7 separate regions of the Homo sapiens genome follow, and all the other regions are linked to region 6. A link means that fine-mapping ties the variant in region 6 to the plasma level of a protein whose gene starts in the linked region. Region 6 holds a variant in brackets. A gene starts in each other region. All regions are shown on their reverse strands.

The links. PIP is the posterior inclusion probability: the model's chance that the variant is causal. The UK Biobank Pharma Proteomics Project read protein levels with antibody pairs (Olink). The fine-mapping took linkage between variants from a reference panel, not from the people measured, so its PIPs are less certain.
Region 1: it holds the start of KLKB1, and the variant in region 6 is fine-mapped to the plasma level of the KLKB1 protein (UK Biobank, PIP 0.98).
Region 2: it holds the start of FAM20A, and the variant in region 6 is fine-mapped to the plasma level of the FAM20A protein (UK Biobank, PIP 0.97).
Region 3: it holds the start of FST, and the variant in region 6 is fine-mapped to the plasma level of the FST protein (UK Biobank, PIP above 0.99).
Region 4: MBL2 starts here. The variant in region 6 is fine-mapped to the plasma level of the MBL2 protein (UK Biobank, PIP 0.98).
Region 5: it holds the start of APCS, and the variant in region 6 is fine-mapped to the plasma level of the APCS protein (UK Biobank, PIP 0.92).
Region 7: it holds the start of SERPIND1, and the variant in region 6 is fine-mapped to the plasma level of the SERPIND1 protein (UK Biobank, PIP 0.98).

What each region holds. Positions count from the first base shown.
Region 1 is chr4:186,225,520-186,229,715 of GRCh38, reverse strand. KLKB1 (kallikrein B1) reads right to left here and starts at 2,209. Exons shown (of 15, transcript NM_000892.5): 1 at 2,129-2,209; 2 at 1,463-1,521. The coding sequence starts at 1,520. RefSeq lists an enhancer at 3,032-3,702.
Region 2 is chr17:68,599,379-68,603,574 of GRCh38, reverse strand. FAM20A (FAM20A golgi associated secretory pathway pseudokinase) reads left to right here and starts at 2,208. Exons shown (of 11, transcript NM_017565.4): 1 at 2,208-3,312. The coding sequence starts at 2,909.
Region 3 is chr5:53,479,027-53,483,222 of GRCh38, reverse strand. It overlaps FST (follistatin), which reads right to left and starts at 2,594. Exons shown (of 6, transcript NM_013409.3): 1 at 2,347-2,594; 2 at 152-343. The coding sequence starts at 2,431. RefSeq lists an enhancer at 1,292-1,361.
Region 4 is chr10:52,771,647-52,775,821 of GRCh38, reverse strand. MBL2 (mannose binding lectin 2) reads left to right here and starts at 3,038. Exons shown (of 5, transcript NM_001378373.1): 1 at 3,038-3,085.
Region 5 is chr1:159,585,713-159,589,908 of GRCh38, reverse strand. APCS (amyloid P component, serum) reads right to left here and starts at 2,083. Exons shown (of 2, transcript NM_001639.4): 1 at 1,924-2,083; 2 at 1,044-1,808. The coding sequence starts at 1,987. The coding sequence ends at 1,201.
Region 6 is chr2:27,505,937-27,510,132 of GRCh38, reverse strand. It overlaps GCKR (glucokinase regulator), which reads right to left. Exons shown (of 19, transcript NM_001486.4): 11 at 3,554-3,652; 12 at 3,248-3,345; 13 at 2,822-2,898; 14 at 2,356-2,452; 15 at 2,059-2,156; 16 at 1,882-1,965. Among named protein-coding and RNA genes, the nearest start is that of GCKR, 11 kb to the right of the region's middle. The variant A/G (reference allele first, on the strand shown) is at 2,060.
Region 7 is chr22:20,772,168-20,776,167 of GRCh38, reverse strand. It overlaps SERPIND1 (serpin family D member 1), which reads right to left and starts at 2,055. Exons shown (of 5, transcript NM_000185.4): 1 at 2,023-2,055. All of the region lies in intron 19 of PI4KA (phosphatidylinositol 4-kinase alpha), which reads left to right.

The DNA of each region.
Region 1 (4,196 bases), not on the chromosome of region 6:
CTGTTAGAGTTGGCCTAAGTGGGGTAAATGAGCACTCTTATTAGCTGGTAGAAAAAGTCAACTATGGAGTAAACTTTCTGAAACCTAATTTCATGATACCACACCACAAAACCTTCAAAAATATTCACACCTTTGAATCTAGTATTTTTATTTCAAAAATTGTATTCTACAGAAATAACTGAATAAGAGCATAAGAATGTGCACACAAAAATACCATAAAAAGAGAAGAATAGCAAGCTCCAAAATATATTACTTATTTGCACCAAAAGATAGCTATAAGTGGAAAATGCAAGTCAAAGAGTGTCCACAGTTAATAACTCTTTTTTGTGAAATGTGCAAATAGGTATATGTAGAAAAATATCTGAAAGACTAAATAAAAGATGTTTAACGATGACTGTTTCTGAATTTGGGGACTACATGCAATATGTAGTTTCTAAATTTTTGCTTACTTACATCCCTGATTTTCCTAGCCATAATCATGATTTATTTTGCCAAAAAACAAAACAAAACAAAAAAATGAAAAACCCCCTGTAGTTGGCTGTGGTTCCCAGTGTCTCTGGCTTATGCTCCTTCTCACCTTTCAGTGGGTTTGCACATGGGTTTGTAAATTACGGTTTAGAAGAGAAATCAGGGTTGAGGGACAGACACAGGGGAGTTGTGATTTAGGGGGAATAAAAGTCTTTTTTCCTGGAAAAAAAAAGGTCTCTTTATGAATGTAAACCTTACCTATAGATGTTTATTGTAGCCATACATCTGAGGAAAATTAAATACTCATTGTTGTGTGGCCCTCTTAAGTCACCATAGACCCAGAATCATGCCTTGTGGGGACACAGAGAAAACTCCCTCTGTAATGATTAATGAAATGTCCAGAATCATTTTTATTCTCCAAAAATTAATGAAATTAATAGAGAAATGAGATCTAAATCTGGTGTTGAAAGCTATTCACCTAGAACTATCCAAATGCATGGTTTGCTAAGTTAAATTTAAACCAGTTACTTTCATTTTTGAAATGGTTCCCTAGCGGTCCAGAGTAAAACTATGTATGGTGTTCCTAACAGATACTTGGATTGGACCCAGACACTATAAAATGCCTAGCACTCTTTTGAATTTTCAGATAAAGTTTAATTTTTTACTGTTGATAATAAAAATAGAGGACTAATTTTTTTTTGTTTCAAGTTTTGCTTTGCAGAGTGTCATCTGCGAACAGAAGTTTTTGTTAACACAAGTCCCAAGACATTCCTACTTCTGAGCTCCTTCCTCTGGTCTGCAACATATGTCTACAGCAATATACCTGACAAGTGGTCCTTGTTGTGGAACATTAAATAGACACGTGTCCTGAATCATCAGGGACAATCTCCACCCCCGAAGCTGTATGTTCAATAGCTTTCTCCAGGGGTGGTGCCACTTGCTTGGCTACTCCTGTCTTAGCCTGAATTCCATGTTTTATAGATAATTCACTTACCACAGGAAACTGTAGCAAACAAGGAAATGAAATAAGTTGCTTGCTTGAATAAAATCATTCTAAAAAAGAAAACAATACATAACTCTGCTGGTTTTAGACCACATTTAACATAAATCTTAATTTAAGGTGATTTAGATTTTCTTGTAAATGTCTGAATTGCAAGACAAAGCACACAATTACTGGTATAGAAAACAAGGGTTTTTTTTTGGTACATTTGTGTCTAGGGAGTTGGAAAATTTATAATGCTTCCCAAGATACAAATTGAGACCTCCAGACTACTGTTGTGTTTATTGTTCATTGGCCAACTCTGTGGCTAGTAATGTTGGAAAGGGAATTGGTAGAGAGAGAGTAAACAATTATGAAACCTCTTGATTTGGGCAAAAACAAAATTAATAAATAATGGCAATAATGTCAGTCCAAAAATCCCTAAGTAAAGAAAACCTCTGAAAATATTAAAGCCCATTTAAAAATTTTAAATCAATCAAATATTCTTTCTGATTTAAAATCATCTTACATTTAAATATTTCTACATAAAGGAACATTATCTATACTCTCTACATACTCAGGAAATTAGAATATAAATGATTAATTTTCTCATAAAGTAAAAAATTATACTTAAAAATTATAGTTTATTTGGAAACAATCAGAATAATAAAAATTTGCTACCTGAAAACACAATTGCTTCTTGGAGGTGAGTCTCTTGTCACTTAAAAATGAACGGTCTTCAAGCTGTTCTAATGTGGCACTGCAGGCAATATTTTGCTTGGCTTCAATATTGACTTTGGGTTTCTGCCAACAGTTTCAACTTTTTGTCCTGTCAACATATTCCATGAACATCCTATCCGTGTTCAGCTGTTAAGTATATTAACTATTTCAGGGAGTGATGTCAGCAAGAATAGGAATAGGAGTTTGTCAGAACAGGAGTTTCTAGCGCTCATCCCTTGCAGAAACATCAATTCGAACAAGTATCCATGCACGAAAATAACTTCACTAGAGCTAAGGAATCAGGTGAGAGGTTATGCCACCTGGTTGCAGCACAGAAATAAGAAAAGACACATAGAAGTGTATAGGAAGGACAATTTCACATTACCGGTGTCATCTCACCTTCAAGCCTGGGCAGCACAGTATGGAGAGAGATGCCCTCTTGCATGGAGGAGGGACAGTTAAGATAGAACCTAACTTCACCACAGATCCCAAGCACCAAGCCCACTCCAGTAAACCCCAGCACCAGGATTCAGGCCTGCCACAGGCCAGACCAGCCTCTGTGGCCTCAGCCCCATGCTCACCCCAGACCAGGTCAGCCCCTGGGGCTTCAGGCTCCAAGATGGCCACACAAAACCTAGACTTCAGGCCTGCTCCAGCTCTAGCCTGGCCCCCAAGACTCTATCTAGCCTCCACGTTAGCCCCAGCAACCCCAGGCTCCAAGTTGGCACCCATGGGCCTAGAATCCAGGCCATCCCCTGCAGATCCAGCACCAGGTCAGCCTCCAGAGATCTTGGCTCCATGCTGGGCCATGTGGACCCAGATGCTGGGCTCACCCCAGTGGACCTTGTTCCCAGGACAGCCTGAATAAACTCAGGAACAGGCCTATCCCCATGAACTCAGGTGCCAGGTGATCCCCATGTTAGGCTGGCCCCTGCAGACGCAGGCTTAAGGCTCATTTCAGTGCCAAGTCAGCCCCCAAGGATCCATGCTTCAAGCCAGTCCTTGTGCACAGAATACAGACAACCACAGTGAATGAACCCAGAATCCAGCCCTTCCCACCTTAGAACTCCAGCAGAAATCCTGTGCATAGACCCCAACAGACAGCCCACCAACAATCTCTGGTCAATCTGACTAGTGAATGGCTTTCTCTGCTGAAGCTAGTATGTAAAGACTGAAATAGGTGCCTACTTCAGTGCAAGGCCACACTGATCACAAATAATCGGGGAAACAAGAAACCACCAAAGGAAGGAAATAAAGCAGCAGGAGGTGACCCTAAAGAAATGGAGATCTTTACTGCATGACAAGAGCTAAAAATAATTGCCTTAAGAAAGCTCAATAAGCTACAAAACAATATAGATAGACAGTAAACAAAATCAGGAAAACAATACATGAGCAAAATTAGAAGTTCAACAAAAAGATAGATAGGAACCATAAAAAAGAATGAAACAGAAATTCTGGAGCTAAAGAACAAAATGACTGAATTGAAAAAATTCACAAACAGCTTCAGCAGCAGACTAGATCAAGCAGGAGAAAGAATCAGCATGCTCAGATACAGGTCATTTGAAATTACCCAGTCAGAGTAATAAAAGGAATGATAAAAATTGCAGAAAGCTGACAAGACTTATAGGACACTGTTAAGAAAATTAATATGCATTAGAAGAGTTCCAGAAGAAGTAGAGAAAGAGAAAGTTGCAGAAACTTATTTAAAAAAATAAGAATAGAAAACTCTCAAAATTTGGAGACATAAATGAAATAAACATCCAGATTTATGAAGCCCAAAAGAACTCCAAATAGATTAAATATAAAGAGATCCTCGGCCAGGTGCAGTGGCTCATGCCTGTAATCCCAGCACTTTGGGAGGCCAAGATGGGTGGATCATGAGGTCAGGAGATCGAGACCATCCTGGCTAACACAGTGAAACCCCATCTCTACTAAAAATACAAAAAAAATTTAGCCAGGCGTGGTGGTGGGCACCTGTAGTCTCAGCTACTCCAGAGGCTGAGACAGGAAAATGGTGTGAACCCAGGAG
Region 2 (4,196 bases), not on the chromosome of region 6:
GATGTATGTGAGGCTGGCAAGTAAGCCAGGGCCCAAGACATGGAAGATCGGAGGAGCAGGAGAAGGCTCATTTCTAGGAGGGGTAAAGGTAGATTAGAGGCAAACCTGAGGAAGCCAACATCCTATTGGCCAATCCTACTGGTAGGATTTCCACTCTCCTATCCAGCTTCATTCACACTTAATATCTAACTCCCACATGCAGTTCTGCACTTGACTGTGACCTTTAAAGGGCATGGAAAATATGTTTACATAATTTCCAAGCAAGTTACACTATTGTTCCCTAAATTGGGGCCAGAAAAAAAAGAGTCTACTAAGCGAGTATGACCCCATGGGTTGAGGAGAATTGAAGTCACAAGACCTGCAGTGTCACCACATCCACGTCCTTTGCCAGCCGAGAAAAATGCGCATCAGTTTGCCACACAGTTACTGCAGTTACATCACCACCATTCAATGCCTGACTTCTTCATTCGCTTGCCATGACATCTAATTAAACACATTAGAAGTTGCAACGTCTCTCAGAAATTGGAAATCAGTTAAAATTTAATTCCAGATAAAAAGGAGGAGGTTCTAGAACCCCTCAAAATGCCCACCATCATACCCAGAGGAGTGGAGTAGCTGGGAATAGTACCGTCTTGGGCTTTTTCACTTGGACTGGGCACTCAGGCCACAATGTTATGCCCCTGAAAGCAGGTTCCTTCCTGCTATCTTCCTTTTCCATCCTTTTCTATTTTTGTCCTAGCGATGAGCAGTCTCTAACCAAGCCTAGTGTACTACAGGAACTAATAAGTAATCATAATGATAGCAAACACATATTTCACACTTATTTAGGATGAGTTAGGAGCTCTTCTAAGTAATTTATACATAGTCAAGTGCCACATAACATTTTAGTCAATGCAACAGTGGTCCCATAAGATTACAATACTGTATTTTTACTGTATGTTTCCTATGTTTAGACACACAAGTACTCACCACTGTGTTACAACTCCCTACAGCATTCAGTAGTCGCATGCTGTACAGGTTTGTACCTAGGATCAACAGGCTATGCCATGTAGCCTCCGTGTGTAGTAGGCTGAACCATCTAGGTTTGTGTAAGTACACCCTGATGTTCACACACACAGGAAAATTGCCTAAGGATGCATTTCTCAGACGTGACACATAATTGTACTTCAATTCATTTAAGTCTCATAATAACCTTAGGAGGTAGGTTCCATCATTATCTTCATTTACATTTGAGGAGACTGCAAAGTCCCGAAGAAATCTTACACTGAACCACGGGGAAAAGAACTCTGGTCTGAACCCACAAGTCAAAGTATGTCTGAGGGTTCTCAATTCCAGCAAGGGAAGGGAGGGGGTTAAAGAGTAGAACTAACTTACATGGGAAGCTTTGCTGCCTGGGCAAGCAGCTTCTGGTGGATTTCCTGAAATTCAGCAGGGTGGGGCCGCCTCTCCAATCAGACTTCACTTTACTATACTATGGGGTCATTAAATAGAGGAGCCAGGAGTTCAGGACTCCCTCCCTCTTCTTCAAAAGGAAAACTGGGTGTGGGGAGGGTACATTACCTCACAGAATATTGGAGAAAGCCTAAATGTGTCCTCCAGTGATTCATTTGGGTGGACTACTTTCACACCAAGCTAAACTCAAAAGTTCGGAGTGGGGTCATCAGGGCCCCTCCCTCCCTGAGTGCAAGAAACATTTCCTCTTTTTAAAGTACAGGCAGAGTTGGAATCAAACTCCTTCCAAACAGGAAATCAGCAAGATTCTAGGTAAAACTGATACCTTACTTTTAAAGGTCAAGCTCTTTCCTTCACCAAGAGCGTGTTTCCTGAGCACCTACTATGTGCCAGGCATGTGGTAGGTAGTTGTTATGAATCTTGATGTGCCCTGCGCTCTGCAGGGGGGCGGAGGTGGAAGGGAACACAAAGAAAGAACAGATACCAACACTGCCACCCCCGCCTCCCCCCACCCCCCCCCACACACTCATTTGGCAAAGCTTACAGGAAAAAAAGGGTTTTAGGGGGCTTGTGGTGGTTTTTTTTTCCCTAAAAATAATAGAAATGGTAAAAAGAGGCTTCGGACCCCTCGCGTGAGTCCCTTAAAGTGACTGGATTGAGACCTGGGCAGGGAAAGTGGGAGGCCCGAGCGAGGGGGAGGGCGCAGGCAGTGGGTGGGTGACAAGGTGCAAGGGCAGCGCCGGCTTCGGATCGGGAGTTGGCCGTCAGCTGCGCCAGAGGCAGGTGCCAGCGGAGAGTGGGTGGGGGTGCCGGCGCCAGGCCAGGCTCGGGGAGGCCCCGCGCTACCTCTGCCTCTAGGAGTCCAGGCGCACAGACAAGCTCCCCGGAGCCGCTCCTGCTTCGCCAACTCCCCACTCGCGCCGCCCGTGCCAGCCGCCGGCACTGGCGTCTCCGCCGCCCGCAGGAGGAGTCGCGGGAGCACTAGCAGCCGCCGCCGAGCGACAGCATCCTCAGGAGAGACGCCCCGGGCTTTGCAGCCGGCGGCCTCCGTCCGCCCTCCGCGGTCGCCCCCCGCCCCGTCGCCCGTCCGCCCGCGGTGGCAGCCGGCGCCGGCGCCCCGGGGCCCTTCACCTGCCGCGAGCGTCCGGGCGGGCGGGCGCACGGGAGAAAAGGCGCAAGAAGCGGGCACCCCGGGAACCCCATTCCCTCGGCTCACTCGGCGCGGAGAAGCGACGCCCGCTGACTCCGAGAGCCCCGGTGCTCCGTGCACCTGGTCCCCAAGTTGAGGAGCGACACCCCTCCACAGGGGACTAGCCCGCGCGGGGAGCATTCCGGTCTCACTGACCCCGGCCCACCCGCGGGACTCCAGGCACCTCTTCTGCCCGCACCCCGCGACCCCTCCCGGGACCCCGGAGACAGCCGGCCTGCCCCCGGCGTCCCCCTTGGCCAGCACGCCATGCCGGGGCTGCGCCGGGACCGCCTACTGACTCTGCTGCTGCTGGGCGCGCTGCTCTCCGCCGACCTCTACTTCCACCTCTGGCCCCAAGTACAGCGCCAGCTGCGGCCTCGGGAGCGCCCGCGGGGGTGCCCGTGCACCGGCCGCGCCTCCTCCCTGGCGCGGGACTCGGCCGCAGCTGCCTCGGACCCCGGCACGATCGTGCACAACTTTTCCCGAACCGAGCCCCGGACTGAACCGGCTGGCGGCAGCCACAGCGGGTCGAGCTCCAAGTTGCAGGCCCTCTTCGCCCACCCGCTGTACAACGTCCCGGAGGAGCCGCCTCTCCTGGGAGCCGAGGACTCGCTCCTGGCCAGCCAGGAGGCGCTGCGGTATTACCGGAGGAAGGTGGCCCGCTGGAACAGGTGAGGACCCCGCCCGGGACGCGGGAGAGCGGGCGCTCTGGCCGGGGCCTCCCCGCGCCCCAGTCTCGAGTTTCCTGACGCCCCCGGCCCAGGGCTGCAGCGGCTCCACCCACGGCTCCAGCCCTGGCGCTGGGCTTAGAGTGTGTTCCCCACCCGAACCCCACCAGCTGTTGCAGACCTCACAGTCCAGTCCCGGAGTCAGATAGTACGAGGAAAAAGTTTCTATTGCAGCCGCACAGCGAAGAAACGCTCTCAGCCCCTTCCCCTTGAGCGCCTGGGTCGTCGTTGAGCCCCACTCCTGCTCCCTCGTCCACTCCCGCTCCCTCGTCCGCTCCCAAACCCCACTCTCTGTCCTGATGTGGAGGAAAGCTGCCGCTGGACTTCGGGTTTCCAGAATGAGGCCCCAAACAGGGTGACTCCAGAGCTAGTTGAAATTCAGCACTTAACTGTGCTCTTTGGGTAAACCTGGGCGCCTTCCAGAAAGCATGTTTCTCCCCAAAACCCAGTTCTTTCCCTTTCCTTATTCCTCTGCCCAGTTTCAGAGATCACAAGGGGGTCATCTGAGGCAGGAAGTAAATGGTCAGTTCTCTGCCGCAGCCACCCCATTGTTCACATTTAAAACGCGGCTTGGGCCCATCCAGCAAGTATTAGAACTTGAAGGCACTTTTATCGTCTTGTATGATCCTGGTGATTTGGACTGACTTGGATCTGCGGCTTGATGCTTCCACAGACGAGAAAAAAATCTTTCAGGGAATTTTTTAAACCCAAAGCAAAATACAGAGGAAAAAATATCAAATATATTTAGGATAAAATTAAGAATCTTTCTGGAAAAGGATGGGGGTGTTAGGGAAGGCAGCACGCTCATTACTGAGATCCCTTGCTAG
Region 3 (4,196 bases), not on the chromosome of region 6:
TAGAGTCTGCACGGCTTACCAGGGCAAGGGACAGGAAGGGGAAGCCCAGGAACAAAGCTCTCCTACTCCCAAACCCCAGTCAGGTAGTGGGGAAGCTAAGGGTAAGACGCCCTCTACTGAGGGCCTGCAAGTTGGGAAGAAGGAGTCCTACCTTTACAGGGGATGCAGTTGGGGGCGCCCCCGTTGAAAATCATCCACTTGAAGAGTGTGTTGTCATTCACGTCCTCCTCGGTCCACGAGGTGCTCAGCCGGCCGGTGCTGCAGCACTCCTCCTTGCTCAGTTCGGTCTTGTACAGGACCTGGCAGCGGCCGTTCTTCGCTTGACGGAGCCAGCAGTTCCCAGCTGTGAAGAGACAAGGGTGGGGAGGTGGGTGAGTGAGCAGTGAGCGGTGGCAGGGCAGGGAGAGCGAGGTGGCTAGCGAAGGAGACCCGGCGGGGATGGGGAGGGGGTGAGCGTGGAGGAGGGGAAGTGAGAGAGACGCGGGAGAAAAGTAGGAAATAAATCGAAAGGGGTGGAGGGGTGGAAAAAGAAGGCAGTGGAGGGGGAAGCCCTGATCACAGAGATGGGAGGTGGGCGAGAGGGAGGGAGGGAGAGAGGGAGAAGACAGGGCGCCCCAGCCATATCAATGTCAGTTACCAGTGACCCAGACACAACACGTGCAGCTTGCATTGACTTTTACTAGACTGTTTACTTTTATTCGTCCCATTTCATAACCTGCAGAGACTCGAAGAGCAGATTAAAGAACCTGACAAAAACAGGATGCGACGGATGTTTTTACATGCTGGTTTCATGTAGGCGGGTACAGGAATTATTTGTGACAGGGGTTAAGAAAGTAAGAGAACGAGAGAGAGGAGAGAGGAGAGATGGAGGGGAGAGAGAGGGAGAAGGAAAGAGAAAGAAAGAAAGAAAAGAAAGAAGAGAAAGAAAGAAAAGAAAGAGAAAGAAAGAAAAAAAGGAAGAAAGAAAGAGAGAGAGGAAGAAAGAAAAGAAAGAGAGAGAGAGAGAAACAGATCAAGCAAAAGGCACTTCTGAAAAATGAAAGCAAAAAAGCAACCCGGCCCAGCCCGGAGCTACCCCGCGCGGCCTCCAGGCGCAGCCAGCCCGACGGGCCCGTTTTGCAATCCGCCAGACCGGAGCACGCCCGCGGCCACCGCGATCTTTCGAAATCTCCGAGGGCTGCTTTCCTCCGCGCCCACGTCCGGGCACCAGGCAGAGCCTCTCCTCTAAAGGCGGGCAACCCAGCGCAGTGCCATGCAGACGGCGAGGGGCAGTGCCCAGGAGGGCAGTTTACAACATACTTAAAATGTTAACGCTGAAGCAGGGAAAGTAATGCCTTAAGGTGGGGGGAGGGGGGAGTCTTCCTACCATTTCACGGTTATAAGTACCTATCTCATACCTAGCAAGAAATATTTGCAAGTGATTTCTCCCTCTTCCCCCTTTTTAATGTTCGGATTTGGGTCGAGAAGACTTCTCATGAATCACCAATATGACTTTAACAATCATTGGATCGCAAGCTGCTATTATTATTTTAAACATTCTGCCCAAAGACTAATTGAAATAAACAAATCTATTTTTAAAAGGCAAGCTTCAGAAATTTGCTCTTAACCCATTTCAGAATTTAAGTCAGTTATGGGCTGCTCACTGTTTTACAGAAAGCTAAGGGTCAGAAAGAAGAATGAGGCAGAGGGGAAAAAAACTGTAAAGTGCTCAAAGCACTTTGGGGTAATAATTTGGCTTTTTTTTTTTTTTTTTTTTTTTTGCGAGAATGGGGGATGGGGTTGGAAGAAGCATCCACTAGGCAGAAAGCTACTTCCCTTGAAAATCTTCAGCACCCACATTTCCAAGTTTGGGCAAAGTTTCTGAAACCACGTCCCCCAGCCACCAAATAAAATTCAGTATCTCTCCCCCAAACCCCCAGGTTTTCTTTTCTTTCTTTCCTTTTTTTTTTTTAAGTATCCAAAAGATGTGGGAGGGAGAGAGATGAGACTGCAAATGGGTCGACTGAAATCTCCAGGCTACTACTGATACTTGTTCCCTTCTTCAGAGCCAAACAGAGGAGATCACATCTAAAGTTATCATGGCCAGAACTTGGAGCATTTAACCCTAACTACTAAGACCCCAGCTCGCTCCCTTTCCTTTTTCAAGATAACCGAGCTCCAAACTCAGTTCCCAGTCCTAAAGTGTCATTGCCTACAATTTTCCCACTCCTCTCCATCCCGGAGTCCCCAAGTTGGTTCAACATCTTCCGAGAGCAGCGTTGCTCAGAACAGACCAAGTGGAGACCACAGAAAAGTCGACCCCCCTGTCCTCAGCCAAGCCTCCCCAGCGCATCCCCACTCGCTTACCCTGGGCACTGCGGTCCTCCATGAACTGGCAGAGCAGCAGCAGCAGGAGGCAAAGCCCACCCGGCTGGTGCCTCGCGCGGACCATCCTGGGGGCAGGCGCGGGGCGAGGAGCGCAGCGGCGCGGGGAGCCGGCGCGGCGGCGGGTGGCTCGGGCGAGCGGCGCGCGTCGCAGAGGCCAGCGGCGGAGGGCGCAGCGATCCCGGCGCAGCCCCGCGCTCGCCGCCGGCCGCCCGCGCGATTCAATGGACGTCAGAAGCCGGGCGCAGCCGCGCTTTAAATCTAGACGGGGGTCTCCGCGGTTTGCGGTGGGCGGTCTCCCAGTGTGTGGGGCTGTGGGAGGGCGGCCGCGAGCGAGGGTGTGCGCGGCTCCTTGGGGGTGGGGAGCTTTCAAAAGTTCAGTGTGAATCAGGTGACATTTCCCACCTTCTGGAAACCCTTCCCAATTATCTTTCGGAGGTGCCCGAAATCAAAACGGCTGGAAGGGAATCGTCGAGTTCTTATTTGCGTAGGAGCGAGAGGGAGGGGGAAGGCGACCGGGGCGGGGGTTGGGGGCTACGCGTCGGGGGTGGGGAGTGGGGAAGAACACCCACTTCAAGTCCTGCTCGCCGCCGCTCGCCGGCAGCGCCGGCGCGCCCGGGGTGGCGGGTGTGTGTGTGAGTGTGTGTGTGAGTGTGTGTGCGCGCGCGCGCGAGTGTGAGAGGGAGGGCGCGGTGGGGGCGCTGGAGGCGGTGGCGGGGGGAACCCGGGAGTTTGTCTCCGTGCTGCCTCTCCTCCGCTCCAAAGAGACTTTTGCAAACGGCCGAAGAGCCCCGGGCTGCCCAAATATCCCGCCCCGGGTCGGGTCGGAGCGCGCCGGCCTCGCGGCGGTTCCGGGCACCCGCAGCCTGGGCGCGGGACCCGCGAGGTTTTGTGTCTGGGTCTGTGAGTGCCTGACTTTGCAGCCACCCCCAGCCCAGAGGTGTTGCTAGGAACCCCGGCCCCGGCACCTTCCACCCTGGCAGAGCGCTACCGAGACGCGGCCCTTCGTCTGGACTAGTCGGAAGCAAACAAAAATGTTTAACACCTCAGGCCCGGTCTCCCCGCGGCACAGCCTCGCCCTCTCCCTTTCTTTTCTCCCCTTTCACTTCGCGGCGTCTGGAGTCGGAGCCCGGAGCGGGGGCGCCGACGTAGGCGGTCTGGCCCCCCCTTCCTCTCCCGCCTGGAGACTCCCCAGTTTCTGTCCTGTGTGCCTCTGTCTGTCTCTCAGTCTCCTCGGCTCCAATCTCTCTCTCTTTCTGTCTCGTCTTCTCTCTTTTCGCGGAATAAAAAAGATTGCAACATCCATAATGAACTTCTGTAGCCTCAGTTTATTAAGTACAGTGCCTGGCATTCTTCGCTGAAAGTTGGCGGGTCTCTCATTTATAACATTTTTGGCACCGCTGAATGAAACTGAGGAGGCGATATTTCCTTTTATATAAAACGATTACTTCACGGAAAATGCTATATTGTTTATTCCAAAGCTGCCTTTTAAATTTGTTCTTTTCGCATCTGAAGCCCGAAGGACAACAGATAGCGAAGTATGCAGACAAAATTCTTGGACATTCGCAGGTCACTGGGATTTGTTCTACGAATTTCAAATCTGCCCTTCTTCCCCCCCTGCAACTGCCCTCCCCCCGCCAGACCCTCCCCCAGTCCTCCTCTAGCCCTCCCACCCCCCATCTTCCGTCAACCTTCCCCCCTCCACAACTGCAAATAACTCAGTGATAACAGATTTTTTTCCACCAACTGCAGGAGATAGTGCTAATCTTTTAATAAAAGATCCCATTACAATGGGATCTGTCTGGACAGACTATAATAGATCCCGAAATACA
Region 4 (4,175 bases), not on the chromosome of region 6:
TAAAACTGAGGTTCGGCCAGAATATGGGGTCTATCTAAGCTCATATTCATGAGACAAAACCAAGCCTTCTGGTTTCCAATCTCAAACCATGCCTCTCACATGGAGCCACCCAAGAACACTGCTTCCCAAGCTGAGAAGACTCTTGAACAGTCACCCTGGAGGGAATGAAGGCCTTTCTTAAGCAGGCTGTCATGGTGAGCCACGTGCCATGCACTCTGAATGTGGACCAGTTAAGGACACACCACTCCACAGCCAAGGCAGCGGTGCCCTCTTTCCCAGACGAGGAAACTGAGGACATGAAGGCAGTGGAACTTGAATAAGGTCACACTGTTGGGAAGTGGGAGAGCTGGGATTTCACCCTAGTCTACAAAAAAGGGGATGTAGGGCACCAGGCAGTCCTCCTGCAGGTCAGAGAGGCAGTTTTCTCTGCAGCCTCTTGGGGTGAGGTGGATTTGTTGTGGCGCTGCCAGAATGGAAGCAGTGTTAGGAAAGTGGAAAGTTTTTTTTTTTTTTAGACGGAGAGGCTCTGTCGCCCAGGCTGGAGCGCAGTGGTGCAATCTCAGCTCACTGCAAGCTCCGCCTCCCGGGCTCACTCCATTCTCCTGCCTCAGCCTCCTGGGTAGCTGGGATTACAGGCACCCGCCACCACGCCCGGCTAGTTTGTTGTTTTTTTTTTTTTTGTATTTTTTAGTAGAGATGGGGTTTCACTGTGTTAGCCAGGATGGTCTCAATCTCCTGACCTCATGATCCGCCCGCCTCGGCCTCCCAAGGTGCTGGGATTACAGGAGTGAGCCACCACGCCTGGCTGGGAAGGGTTTTAAAGTCCAGAACAAATGCACACAGTGGCCTTATCTATGGGGTGGAGTGCAGAGTGGGCATTCGTGTGGAGAGAGACATTCAGGCTGCGGCATGTGGAGAGTGGCCTCTCCTTTTGGGAAAGGCCTTCTGGAGAGCAGGATGTAACTGGGTGACACTCCAATCTCCGGATCAATTGCTAGATTGACTTTCCCCCAGATACCCACACCCTCTGAACCCAGTTCTAGGAAATTTCAGGGTCTGGAGAGCAGTTTCCTGACCTCTGGACTAGGTAAACAATGAAAGCAAGCACTGTGATTAAAGCCAGCACCGCCAGTGACCTGGAGTCAACTACCTCACCTCACCTTCTGCCACTGGAGCAGGAGCAGGGGGAAGCTCTGGCTGCTAAAGAATAAGAAGGGAAACAAGTCTTCTCAGGCCCTGTCTTCTTTAGGCCCTGGATCTCCTGATATCCACTGATGGCTTTAGGCATGTGGCTCTGTACCATCCTGGACATTTTTCCAGGCACAGCAGACAGGTCAGCAGGAAGTAAGGAAGCCAGTCCCTCCACAAGCCAAGAAGACTTCAATTGGAAGGGACCTGGAAATGCATCTTACTCACATTTCTTTTGGTGTTTGGAGGCCTCCATAGTACCCCCACCACATGGCCCCGCAGCCTCTGAACTTCTCAGGATGGGCTCCCCAACACCCCAAGCTACATGGCATTTTTCTGAAAGCCATATCAGTAATGTAGTTGAGAATCAAATGAACTATGTTCGTAAAAGTATTCTTCCATCCCTTCTAGATTGTCCCCATTAACCACAGCAAGATGGTTCAAGCCATTAACACACACGATACCCATGATCTTATAGTGCCAAGTGCTGTTCTTTTGCTTCTTATCTCAGTTGAGTGGCTCCTAGATAGTCAAGTCATAAATGTGTGTGCCCATGAAAACTTCTTATTATCACTCACTATTCTAGCTAATTCTCAAGTGCAATCAATACCTCCTGTTTCTCAAGTGTGCCTACCTTCTTAATCTAGCTGCCATTACCCTGACCCAGGCCACTGTCTTCTGCTGCTTAGATCATGGCAAGCACTTCCTTTTAGATCTGCTTTTCTCCAGTCCTGTTCCCCTCAACATCATAGCCAGAACAAGCCTTGCAAAATTCAAATGTGATCACCTCTCCACTACTGCAGTCCCTCTAGTGCCCCCTGGAAGGAAACCCAAAGTCTTTAACACAGTTTACAATTCTTGTTATGAGGATGAAATTTGAAGACATTGTGCTAAGTGAAATAAGCCAGATACAAGGGGGCTATTGTATGATTTCACATATATGAGGTACCTAGGATAGATGAATTCAGAGAGACAGAAAGTAAAACAGAAGTTACCAGTGGCTGTGGGTAGGGGTAAATGGAGAATTCTAGTTTAATGAGTTGAGAGTTTCAGTTTGGGATGATGAAAATCATCCCATGATGTGGTGATGATAGCACAACCGTGTGAATGTACTTAATGCTACTGAGTTGTGTGCTTAATAATAATGGTCAAAATGGTAAATTTTATGTCTATTTTACCACAATGAAAAACTGGAAAAGTAAAGTCAATGACTATAATATCATAAAGTGTAAGTAACATGAGAGAAAATAATTCAGGCTAAGAGGATAGAGACTGCTAGGTAGGACTATTTTAGAATAAGTGATCAAGGTACTGATTTCTCTGAAATTGGAATATTTGAATAGAAGAGAAAGAGCTAGCTGGCGATGCCCGTAAGGGGTCCAGGCATGGAGACATCAAATGAAGAGTCTGAGGCAGGAATGGCCTTAATGCATTAATGGCAGCAAGAGGTCTATGTGGTTTCATGGATGGGTGTGTGCGTGCATGCACGTGTCTGTGTGTATAGTTGGTGTGCATGAGCATGTGTATGCATTTGTGAGTATCTTTGTTTTTCTGTTGGAAACAAGGATGTCAACAGGACTAACTAGGTGAACCTAGCTGTGGTAGTTCAGCAATGAGATTTGCCAAAATGGATGGCAATTGAAAGAGGAATTGTGCTGTATTAAAGCAGACAGCTGCCGAGCACTGTATTGGAGGCTCCTAAATTTCTCATAGTTCTGAGAAGAGCTGTTTATTAATCTGGAGTTGAAGGCCAGGCCCAGGATATCCTTGTTCACAAGGTTGATTGGGCCCTACATTGCTGAGCCCAGCCTCCTCCCTCACTCTGAGGCATCTGCCAGAGCCCCAGGCTAGAGGGCCAGCGTCCTTGTCACTGAGTCCCTGCTCTGCAGAAACACCAGTAAGTCATTTCTGGTGAATAAATCTGGGTTTCCGGATCAAGGGTTTGGGGAGCTGACATGACCCTGGAGGCATGGAGGAGGCTTTCTAGGGGTGGGGGGAGTGGGATGGAAAGCAGAAATCAGGTTGAGGATGTCTCTTTTTCTGCTTGTGCTGGAGCATCTGTGACTTTCCTCCATTATCTGTTCATCTGCAGTGGAGACTGTCTTTGTTTTCAAAGGGAAACTTGGAGGCTTAGACCTATGGGGCTAGGCTGCTGAGGTTTCTTAGGGGGCAATAGCTGGAAGAAAGCTCTGAAGAACAAATGAAAGGTTAATACTGAGAAATGGGAGGAGGATTCAAGGCAAGTTTTCTAATTGCCAGTGGTTTTTGACTCACAGAACATGGGGAATTCCTGCCAGAAAGTAGAGAGGTATTTAGCACTCTGCCAGGGCCAACGTAGTAAGAAATTTCCAGAGAAAATGCTTACCCAGGCAAGCCTGTCTAAAACACCAAGGGGAAGCAAACTCCAGTTAATTCTGGGCTGGGTTGGTGACTAAGGTTGAGGTTGATCTGAGGTTGAGACCTTCCTCTTTGGATCACCAGCTTTCAGCTCAGGGCCTGCCAATGAGTAAATGATAGTTAACAGGTCCTGGAGGGGAATCAGCTGCCCAGATACAAAGATGGGATTCAGGTGGCAGATGGACCCGAAGAGGACATGGAGAGAAAGAGGAAGCTCCTACAGACACCTGGGTTTCCACTCATTCTCATTCCCTAAGCTAACAGGCATAAGCCAGCTGGCAATGCACGGTCCCATTTGTTCTCACTGCCACCGAAAGCATGTTTATAGTCTTCCAGCAGCAACGCCAGGTGTCTAGGCACAGATGAACCCCTCCTTAGGATCCCCACTGCTCATCATAGTGCCTACCTTTGTTAAAGTACTAGTCACGCAGTGTCACAAGGAATGTTTACTTTTCCAAATCCCCAGCTAGAGGCCAGGGATGGGTCATCTATTTCTATATAGCCTGCACCCAGATTGTAGGACAGAGGGCATGCTCGGTAAATATGTGTTCATTAACTGAGATTAACCTTCCCTGAGTTTTCTCACACCA
Region 5 (4,196 bases), not on the chromosome of region 6:
GAGTTTGAAATCATGACATTGGTTACCATCCTGAAGCTTCTGGATGCTATCTTTCTGATTCCACTGACTACATGCTCTACTTATTATCAGTGAGAAAAGCCTGTCTTATTTCCCATATATGTAGCTCAAACTCCCTCTGGGATCCTTGCTTCTCTGGGAATGCAACTTATATCTGTTGACGATGTGCCAGGCACTGTGTTCCATGCTTTTCATAACCATAAAAATAACTACTAGTAATAGCATCTGACAATTATTTTTCAGTGTGATAGTTAGGATGTGGCTTGCTCTGCTAAGAGTTGTATCTGAAATGTACATGGAAAGTCCATTTCAGAGAGTATTCTGTGTATACTCTCTGTGTACATTTCAGAGAGAGTAACTGGGACCAGGTTATAGAGGGCAATGTCATATTTAGAGGTTTAAATCATGTCCTGTAAGAAGTGTGAATCCATGGAAGAATTTTAGACAGCATATTCATGTGAGCAATATTCAGAGTATAATATTTTTTGATGACATCAAGAGAACATTATGAAAATCAAGCATTGTACAGTCCTACTGAGGTTTTTGAGACATAAAGTTATGTTTGTCTTCATACAAAATGATCCCAGTCTCATACTTTTTTGGTTTTCATTCTGACTTCTTCTAGTTTTATTCTTCCTGTCTTATTACTTGCTGTCAGGTTCTCAACTATTGCTTACTTATATCATTATAGTTGTCTACCTGATGCAACCTCAGACCCCTTTTTGATCGATTTGTAGCTGGAAAAACAAATAGGAGAATTGTGATTACAATTCCACACATATTTTGAATCGTCATTAAAATGATTGTTAGTAGCTTTTAAGTATTGCCACTGTTGTGCTCATTGAGTGCTCTGGCTTTGTGATATATCTTTCTAGTTACTTACAGGTTTTCCTCCCCGTACTTGGCAATTGGAGTTTTCAGGATAATGAAACACCAATTACCAATGAAACACCAATTAGTAGATAGATAAGTAGTAGACATAAGATAAAGATATGGGACTATGACAAGCACTAAACAAATGCAGGTAGCATAATACAATATATATTTTTTTAATTAGGCAGACATACAGATAGGAAATTCAAAGAAGAAAGAGCTGCAGATGTAAGATCTAGTATCCAGTTGCTTTGACCAGATCTCTTAGACAGTCATTTCATTTTCAAGTGCTCTCGTTGAGTCAAGACCTCAGACCCACACCAAGGGTTTGATGATGACATATCCTCTGATTTCATAGTTCAGAGCCTGCCAGTCCAGGATATTGGCAGGGAGAGGGGTACCCTGATAGGCAGACAGGATATTTTCTGGGGGCAGCACAGAGTCCCACATGTACAAATCCCCAATCTCTCCCACAAAGGACTGGCTCCTATCAAACTTGCCCCCATAGGAATCCTGTTCCTGCCCCAGGACAATCTTGGGCTGAGCTTCTACAAAGTAACCCTGTCGCAGACCCTTTTTCACCAAAGGTGTCCCATTGATCCAAAATTCAGCAATACCTGATGAGGACTCCCAGCTCACACAGATGTGCACTGGAGCCGGGAACTTTTCGATAACTTTGGATGTAACTTTGTGTCTTCCAATGTATAGACTATACTCTCCAACTCTTTCTTTATAAACTAGTAGCTCATTATCCCTGCCTTGGGTATTGTAGGAGAAGAGGCTGTAGGCACGAGAGAGATCACTATAGGCTCGAAAACACAAGGTAAAGTTCTGTAGAGGCTTCTCCAGCGGTGTGATCAAGTTTACATGATCAGTAACAGATTCTCTAGGAAATACAAACACCTTCCCACTGAGGTCTGCGGGATAAAGAAAGAAAGATAATGACCTTCAGTATAAATGCAGGGAAAAGATATCTCAGCTTCAACCTATTTTCTCACTTTATGATTCTTGACCATTCCTTCACCTCCTTACCTGTGTGAGCAAAGGCTTCCAGGAGGCTGGTGAGGACAGAGATCCAAAGCAGCGGCTTGTTCATATTCCTGGCCTAGGGCTGTTATAGCAGAAGCAGTGACCAGGATGAGGGTAGCAGACAACACAGTGGCTGTCCCCCTAGCGTCTGATATTCATGCCCTTAGACTTCAGGTTATTCAGGGTTTATATGCACCTTGGGTGAGGATGGGGGAGGAAGAGCACCAATAATATGTGAGTGATTTTCCAGGTCTGCCTCCTGGCGCTTACGGTGAAGGAGTGGTGAGCCCTGAGCTGGAAAATCAATGGGAGTTATTTATTAGAGACAAGTGATGGCTAGAGCTCCAACTCCTGTGACCCAGATTTTATTGCTGGGAAGAGAGTCATTGCAGGGCAGCAGGGTTATGGATGGGATGAGGCGCTGGGCTGGCCATGTCAGCAGAGCCTCTCTCTGCTCTCTGGGCCCCCTCTCTGATGGCTCTGTGCTCTGCCAGAAGCTCCTGAGCCACACAGAGTGTATCGCTGAGCTCAGCCCTCTTGTGGGCTATGGGAACAAGGCCTTTTCTTTCTTTTATAGTTCTCAAGTTGTCTTGTATTTGTAGGATATTCTAGGATTCTGCTTTCTGCTGAAGACCCTAAAAAGTGCCTTCAACTTTGACTAATTCAACATCAAGTAATACATCCAGGCAAAGCTAAGGGGAAAGAGGGACTTGGAGAATAAACTTTCTGTCCCCATGAAGCTTAGTATTTTTCTGCTACTTCTACTCAGTGCTTTTTTTTCGTTTGCATATCATGGTGCTTCCTTATCCTAGATCTTTCCATTTCTCATTACGACTTGTTTTCTGGTTACTTCATGCTACCTGCAGAGATGTCAGCATCTCCCCAAGTTTTTCTCTCCTCTTCTTTGAGTCCTTGGTCATTGAGTGTATATCTAATCCATCTTTGGTGATGACCCCACTAATACATTTATTCACTAGCTCTCAGTTACTACACTAGGTGCTGGGGATTCAGTGGTCACTGGCTCTCTCACAGCCCCAGAGATCTCCACCTTCATTCTTTCTATGTCTCCTTCATTCTCTCTCTGTACAGTTTATTAACCACCACTCAAACCTTCTCTGCCTCTGAGATATCAAACTGAAGTTCTTCTTTCTAGCCACATTATTTCTTTCTCTCTCATCCCTGAATTATATGGTGTCTTGTTTCTCATCCTACTGTTTAGCCTCTTGTTCACTCTCTCTTCTGTTAGCTCACCACAGACCTAATCAGCCTTTTCAATGACACAATCACTGCCACCAAGAATACACTTTCTCTATCATTGTTCAAAGTATCCTTCCTATTCTCATCCCTGGGGAGTTTCCATTCTCTACTTTTTTTCTCTAAATGGAATCCCAGGTTGTGAAGCCTTATCTGGCTTGTTGCACAGTATAGGTTAGTGATAAAGTTGGGATTATGCATCTATTGACTCCTGAATTAAATACAGACCATTTGCTTGGAAGCCAATGCCATTTGCAATCTGGCTCTAACCTGGCTATTATCTCAGAATCTAATCCTATTCTCCAGTCAAACACCTCTAATTGTTGTTCTTTATACCTTCCTGGCTTTCTTGATTTCATTACTTCTATTCAGTGCCTTCATACTGTCTTGAATTTCTCTCTTATTTTCTTTTCCTGTTTCTAGGAATTCCAGCCATTCTTCCACATTAATCTCAAGCTTATTTAGGTGATGGTTATAGTAAAAGCCCAGACTTCACTATTATGTTATTGCTGTCTATGTAATAAAACTAAACTTGTATGCCTTGAATTTATACAAAAATATAAAAAATAAAAAACAATCTGCTTCATGAAGACTTTTCTAATATCCCAACTATACATTATTTCCCCTCTTTCGTACTTCCCATAAGGTTAAGATCAAAGACTTTGGGATAGAATTCCAATGTTGCCATTTACTAGTGGCTGACTATTCTGCAAGTCACTAAACCCCTCTGAACCTTAGTTTCCTTCTCTGTGAAACAAAGATAAAACTATCTACCTCACAGTGTTTCTCTAAGGATAAATGAGATACTATGATATACATAAAGTACATGGAACAGTATCTGGATGGTTATTATTACCATCATTTTAGAGCCTTTATGGCTGTTACCACTATCTGTCTCATATTATAGATATTATTGTATTTATCTTGAATCCCTTCTAGACTGAATCTGGGTATTAGGACTTATTTATATTTAGATCATTGGTTTCATCTAACAATTTTTCTTACACATGAAAAGAAACTGT
Region 6 (4,196 bases):
GGAGGCTGAGGCAGGAGAATGGCGTGAACCTGGGAGACAGAGCTTGCAGTGAGCGGAGATCGCGCCACTGCACTCCAGTCTGGGTGACAGAGCGAGACTCCATCTTAAAAAAAAAAAAAATGATAGTAGTGATCTATCAGATGAGAACATGTCCCGGCATGATAAAAATAAATAATAATAATAATAATTTTTGAAAATGATGGTGATCTATTAGTACAGAAAGATGTTCATAAAGCAACTTTAAAACAGCATATCAAGTATGGTCTTACTTTTGTACAAATATATTTATATATGCATATAATAGAAATTTAAAAGGACATTCTCCAAAATTTGTTAGAGTGTTTTTTTTTTTTTTTTGAAGATGGTAGATTTGGAGTGATTTTTTCTTTTTTGCATTTCTGTAATTTGTAACGTCTTTACTATAAAAAATGTATCTATAAAAAATGTATGGCTGTTAAAATGAACATTTTTCTTTAAAAATACAGTGTTTTGGCTAGGCGTAGTGGCTCACGCCTGCAATCTCAGCACTTTGGGAGGCTAAGGCGGGTGGATCACTTGAGTCTAGGAGTTGGCAAACAGCCTGGGCAATGTGGAGAAACCCGATCTCTACAAAAAAAATACAAAAATTAGCCAGTCATGGTGGTGAGTGCCTGTGGTCCTACCTACTTGAGAAGCTGAGGTGGGAGGATCAGTTGAGCAGGGGAGGCGGAGGTTGCAGTGAGCTGAGATGGCACCACTGCACTTTAGTCTGGGCCACAGAGTGAGACTTTGTCTTTAAAAAATAAAAAGAATGAAAGACATTGGAAGGAGAGTGGATTCCCTGTTCAGGGGCAGAGAAACTTCCGCTTCTATACGAGTTCTGAGTCCAGGTAAGTCAGTGTTTCAGCTGTGTCTGGTCAAGCCAGGAAACTTCTGACAGACATGGTTTGAATAACGAATAAGAGACCACATCTCTCCAGAGCAACCCTTCAGGGCCCTGATTCTGCCCATGGAGGGTGGGCAGGTGGTGTATGAGAAAACTGAGAACCAGAGATGTAAAATTGCTTGCTTTCTTGGGCCACACTGTAGAGCTAGACCGGCATCCAGAGCTCCCAATGCCCACACAAAGCTCTAAATTGCAAAGAGCACACACACTGATTATTATTTCTGTAATTATTATCAGTATTTGTGCTGGATTATAATTCATTGGCAAGCAGGGACTATATGCACATAAAGTTATCTGCAATGAATTCAGCATAGTAAACTTGCAAAAAAAAAAAAGGTGTGGTAAAAGCTTTTGGATAATGATGATGACTTTGGTATCAAGAATTAACCTGTCCCAGCCAGGCGCAGCGGCTTACACCTGTAATCCCAGTACTTTGGGAGGTCGAGGCAGGCAGATCACTTGAGGTCAGGAGTTCGAGACCAGCCTGGCCAACATGAGGAAACCCTATCTCTACTAAAAATACAAACAGTAGCCGGGCATGGTGGTGCACACCTGTAGTCCCAGCTACTTGAGGCACGAGAATCACTTGAACCCAAGAGGCAGAGGTTGCAGTGAGCCAAGATTGCACCACTGCACTCCAGCCTGGGCGACAGAGTGAGACTCTGTCTCAAAGTAAAAATAATTAACCTGTCCCAAAGGACAAATGAACATCTGTCAGGTGACTGGAGGCCTATCCCGCAACTTTTTGCATATTCCTAGAGACAGCTGAGCCCAGTAGTTCATTGCCTTGGGAATTCTGACTAGTAACCTGGTAACCCATGACCTTGCCCAGCTGGCTTTGTGAGGGTCAGAGAGGTCTCCAAACTTTCTGCCCTACAGCCTTGGGTTTTTTGATTCTTGGAATCCCTCACCCTCTGAGCCCCTTACTGCAGATAGGACCTTCTCATTCCCCATACCTGGATGAAGTTCCCTTCATATTCAAAGAAAAGCAGTGGCCATGTGATGCTGATGATGGAGGGAAAGAGCTTCTTCAGAGGGATCTGGAGAGAGAGAAAGAGGAGCAGGAGAGGCATCTCCAGGAAGGCCTGGCTGCAACTGCCACCTGGGTCCCTTTGTCACGGCTGGACTCTCACC[A/G]GCAAGGTCTGACCCACGGTGCTGTGTGCCAGGGCCTGGATGTGGTTGGTCTTCTCTTTCACCTGCTCCACTATAGTCTGCACCTCCGTGAGGTTGTCTAGGAGAAGGGGAGGGCATCAGAGTCGAAAGGCTGGCTGTGCAGCTGTTCCTCCTGCTCCCCTGGCTGGGGTCCAGTCAGGATATTCACCCCGTCCCTCCCTCTGAGCAGGTACCCTAAGACCCAGAAAAACAACAGCTCCTCTGAACCATTCTATTTCCCCCTCCCCACCCCTCACCACTCCCATCTTCCCTCTCACCATCCAGGGTGAAAATGAAGACCACAGTATCGATTTCCGTGAGAGAGGGAAGGATGGAAGTCAGGAAGTCCTCCTGGGAGAAGGTGAACTGGGGACCCTGGGGCAGAAGAAGATGGGAGGGTCCCTCCCATGAAAACACTCTAAAGCACAGACTTGAGGACTAAAGGGGGCCGTGGAGGAGATCTAACACTTTTGTGCACAGGTGAAAGAGCTGAAGTTCAAAAGGTACAGTGTTTTGCCCAAGATTATGTAACAAGTCAGTGGACTAGGGCCAAGTTTGGGGACTGGATCTAGAGCTTTCCACACTGCCCATGCTAAGCCAAAGCCTCATGACTTCTGACCCATATTCTCTTCTCTGGACCGTCTATTCCAATGAACTTCCCACCTAGCTCCGCCTTCCCCTTTTCTTCCACCCTCAGCACACTAGTGGTCTCCCCAGCTTCCCCAAGTCCTGTTCTTCTCCGACCTGGTTGGTGAGCTCAGCCTTCTGGTTAAACATGTCACTGTGATCACCAATGAGAAAGCCACGGACATCTCGGAAATCTGGGAAGTTTAAGAACAAGGAGAGAGGAGTGATTGGCTATATAGGAAAGGAAGGTTCTAGGCTTCAGGGGGAGAAAATGGGACTGGGAGGAAAAGTGGCAAGTGGGGCGTAGAGTGAGGAGTAGCCCTTGTGGGAGGCCATAGTTAAGCACAGGGGTGGGAGCTGAGAAGGGATCAAGGACTGAGTTGGGGTTCTAAGGAAGAAGAATTTGACTGAAGTGCCTATTTAGATAGGGAAGGTGGGACACTGAGGAACACCCATGGGTTGGGAGTAGGACAGTGTTTGGAGAGCAGCCCGAATGGTTGGGATCAGGAGGAAGCAGGAAGAACATCTGGACTGGGGTCCCACCAGCACCAAAGGTGTGGATGCACTCTACTCCATCCATGATGGCAATGATGCCCAGGGTCTGCCAGCCAACCAGGTACACGTGGCCTTTCTTCTCCAGACTGAGAATGGGTCAGAGGTCAGGACATGAGAGATCACCGTGCAAAGAGGCCAGAGATGTCCACAGAAGAACACAGGAGTCAACAAACCATGACCCTTCAACATGCAATCCTATCGCCCATACCGTGTTAACATGTCTCACAGAGTCTCCCTGCTCTCAGTATTCTCCATCCGGGCCACATCCTCACCTCTAAACACATATCCACACACCTGGTGCTGACACTCTTCATCAGGGTGGCAATCTTGGGGCTTTGGCTGTAGGTCACCTGATGAGCTCGCTCAAATGTCCGCAAGATTTCCAGGAGGCATCTGGGAGAAAAGCCACCAGCTCTCAAGAAGGGCCCAATTCCCCCTCAGAAAGCTTAGGTGCCTCCCTGAGCGGGGAGGTGAAGGCACAGCTCCCTTAGAACTAAATTCTGCTGGTCCCTGGAGAGGTGCAGAGAGTAGGCCCAGACTGCGTTCCGAAGGGGCAGCAAGGGCTTCTTCAATGGGCAGAAAACAAAAGAGCAGAAAGAGGGACGAGTGCAGCAGGAAAGCACCAGGAGGAGCAGGATCTGAGAGCCACTGGGAAGGGGCATGAGCAGCCTAGGAGTGAGGCTAGAGACCCTGGAGAGGGAGGCAGGTCCAGAGTAGGATAAGCTCTACCTGCATGGCCTGGACCACCCCCAAATCAAAGGACCCTAGGGAGCCAGGCTAGCTTTGGAGGCCCCAGGCAGGCTCAGGGATTAGGTCTGGGCCTGAGGAATCCAGGATCCACTGGAAACAATTCGGACTCTGCAACTATGAGGTGGGAGCAACAGCATGTACTACCCAGCTCCCTTCCCAGGGGAGGCGTGGTGGGCTGCAGTCTTAC
Region 7 (4,000 bases), not on the chromosome of region 6:
GTGTTTTTGGTAAAGATGGGGTTTTACCATGTTGCCCAGACAGGTCTCAAACTCCTGAGCTCAGGCAATTCTCCTGCCTTGGCCTCCCAAAGTGCTGGAATTACAGGTATGAGTTACCATGCTCAGCCTCTAGAAATGATTTCTAATGTATGTAGCTGCAAATAGAACTGGGCCCAGTTTCTGAATGGCACTTTGAGTAACTTAGCTTCATCCTCCCAGCATTTTACATATCAGGAGACTGTGTATCAATAGCAACACACTTTTAAAAGTCAGGAACAAAGAAAGTAAGCAGCTGGTAGAAGGCTCCTTGCCCAACTACACTTCAAGTGTCCTCCTCTTATCACTTCTTGGCCTTTTGGCTAAGATCAAGAAGAAGAAGACCAGGCATAGGGGCTCACACCTGTAATCTTAGCATCTTGGGAGGCCAAGGCAGGAGGATCGCTTGAGCCCAGGAGTTCAAGACCAGCTGGAGCAACATAGCAAGACCTCATCTCTATTTTAAAAAAGAAAGCCAAAAGAAGAAGGAACAAAGGGGGAAAATGTTTTCTTCTCAGATAAAAATAAGGTTAAAGAACAAAACAAAAACCAACTTGAATAAATAAGCATTCAGGAAAACGTATCTGAGGCCAGATAGAGTGGCAGAGTAAAGACATGCATGTTTTATCCCGGTATTCAGAAGTTATATTTGGAAACTTCTTATACCCTGTTCCCACATTATCTGATAAAAAGCCAAAAATAGTTTTCGTCATTCCCTTACCAGAGGAAGGAGAAAATATCTCTGATATCTTTTATGGATTGAAATTAAAGATCTGAAGGTAAATCTTCCTGATGTTTTGCTATTTAGTATAACAAACATTGTAGAAGACGTTTAAAAACTATCACTAGGTTGTGATTAAATCCAGATTACTGTTTGAAGAGAAACAATATATTTTAAAGATAAATCATTCAAAAGTTTGTTTTGCTTTTTTTTTTTCCTGGGAACTTCATATTGTGCTTTCTTGCTAATTGCCAGAGCTGGGTTGGCCTTTTCAGTCACGCATCAGAGCATAACACTTGATAAACCGTCATCCCTCCTGGTGTATGGTCTCCAGGCCCAACAGAGCAGGCAGAATGGGAGAGAAGTAACTGCCTAAAGTTTGGAAAACTTTTTATTTTGAAGTAAGTTCAAACTTCCAAAAATGTTGAAAGAATAGTGTAGTAGAACAACTCCTGTATACCCGTACCGAGATTTACCAGGTTTAAAATTTTGGAACCTTTGCCCTGTCATTATCTGTGTGTGTGTGTACGTACGTGTGTGTTCTCACAGGCATGCACATACACATTTTTTCTTCTAGACCATTTGAGAGTAGGTCTCCTATATCTTGTTCCTCTAACATTTTTTCTTTTTTCTTCTTTTTTTTTTTTTTTTTGACGGAGTCTAACTCTGTTGTCCAGGCTGGAGTGCAGTGGCACGATCTCCGCTCACTGCAACCTCTGCCTCCCGGGTTTAAGCGATTCTCCTGCCTCAGCCTCCTGAGTAGCTGGGATTACAGGCGCGTGCCACCACGCCCAGCTAATTTTTGTATTTTTAGTAGAGACTTGGCTTCACCATGTTGGTCAGGCTGGTCTTGAACTCCTGACCTCGTGATCCACCCGCCTCGGCCTCCCAAAGTGTTGGGATTACAGGCGTGAGCCACTGCACCCGGCCCCTCTAACCTTTAATACTAATACTTCAGGGAAAATACCCAAGAGCAAGGATATTCTCATACATAATCACAGGACAGTTATCCAATTCGATTAATTTAATATAAGTACAATATTTTCATCTATTCCACAGCTCCTATTCTAAGTTTGTCAACTCTCCCAACAATGGAACTGACACAATTTTATAATAGGCACACTGAAAAATGAAACCATTTCCCACTTCTAAAACAGTGTAGAAAGCTTCTGAATTCTTAGTTTGCTAGAAAAATGAACCAGTTGCCTATCCGTAAACACCAAAAATAATTTATAATCAGCAGAAACATTAGAAACCCAACTTACCTCTGTGTTTCTGAGAAGTGGCGCTTCAGAGATGAAAGCAGCCAAGGTCATCAGTGGGATTTTGATGTGAACTTTGGTGCTGGGCTGTTGCTGCATATTTTCCAAAGTAAATAAGTCCCAATCCAAACACCAGGCAACCAGCTTGGTCAGCACAAACCCCCTCAGCTGTGCCTTTGATAACTGTAGAGTGGCTTGCAGCTCCTCATCTCCAGTTCTTAGAGCTGACACTTTGAGTATATGACGGTTACTGTGTTAGCATGCACACATAGCCTTGGTGCAGGAGCAGCCCCTCTTGAGGTCACCACATAAACAAGGCGCTCTTCAGGCCTCTGGGGACCAGGCTGCATTGAGGGTAGCTGAAAGTAGAGACCATGCATCTGCCTCCAACTGTGTCCTCTCTTCTGGGATGATCACAGCATCTGCCCTCCACCTGCTCTCCAGGACTGATGTGGCTGGCTCAGCTACTAGGCGGGTGTCCCTGTCCTTCCAAGAGCTCGTTCCTCAGTGAAAGGTGGAGGAGAGAGGACAAAATTAGTGGCTTACAGAATAAGGGGATTGTGGCATGGACCTTTCTTCAGTCAAGGGTTGCTGTGTTTGTTGCCAGTAGGTGCAGCCCAGCACTCCTGTCTGTTGTGGGACAGATAGGACTATTACTGAGCAGTGCCTCCCAAATTCAGGGCCACTTAGGCATTCGTGGGGATCTCTGAGGCTGTGATACATTTTGTGTTTATGGGTGTTTGTTTGTTTGTTTGTTTGTTTTGAGACAGAGTTTCGCGCTGCTGCCCATGCTGGAGTGCAGTGGTGCGATCTCAGCTCACTGCAACCTCTGTCTCCCAAGTTCAAGCGTTCTCCTGCCTCAGCCTCCTGAGTGGCTGAGATTACAGGCGCACACCACCATGTCCAACTAATTTTTTGTATTTTTAGTAGAGACGGGGTTTCACTATGTTGGCCAGGCTGGTGTTGAACTCCTGGAGTGAAGTGATCCTCCCGTCTCGGCCTCCCAAAGTGCTGGGATTACATGCGTGAGCCACCACGCCTGGCCCTATGTGTTTTTTGAGACAGGGTCTCACTCTGTTACCCAGGCTGGAGTGCAGTGGCGTGATCTTGGCTCACTGCAGCCTCAACCTCCCGAGCTGAAGCAATCCTCCTCACCTCAGCCCTGCAAGTAGCTGGGAATACAGGTGCACACCACCATGTCTAGCTAACTTTTGACTTTTTTGTAGAGACAGGGTCTCACTATGTTGCCTAGGCTGGTCTTGAACTCTTGGGCTCAAGTGATCCTCCTGCTTCAGCCTTGCAAAGTGCTGGGATTACAGGCATGAGTCACTGTGCCCGGCCTTATGATAATTTGTTTTTTAATTTGTGTTTTAAATTTTATGATCTAAAAAGTTTTAAGAATATTCTGGATTGTCTGGAAGATCAGCTTATCACAGAGACTGCTCCTCAAGAGCATGTTTGGGAGTGTCGGCACCCAGAGTCTATCTGAAGAGAGAATGTGACTCCTAGGAGAATCTGCGGGTGTGCAAGGGGCCCATGGGGGTGTCTGTGCATTGCTCCGTTTGAGAAATTCCAGAGTGTAAAGGTCCATTGTGTTCAGGACACAGACCGGTGGTTGTGTCTGAGTCTGATTTTGCACTCTAGCTTTTGTCAGAGCTGTCTTCTTAGAGCCTTCATCTGTCACATACAATACTGAGTCTTCAGCGTGGCACCACAGGCAGAGGCTGCTGTCTGTGCCCACACTCCTCGTGGGCCCACCTCCCTCATTCTCTGTCTTGTTCTCACACATGCAAAGCCCGGCCCCAGCACAGCCCTGGCACTTGCTATTCTTTCTGCCCAGGACACCATCCCTGCAGACCAGCAGGTGGCCGCTGCTCTCACTGTTCGCTCTTGGTTTCACCGAGGCGTCACCAGCCACCCTGGCTGAAATTGCCCCTTGGCCTCCAGCTCTCAGTATTCTGCTCTCTGAAATGAGGGTGAC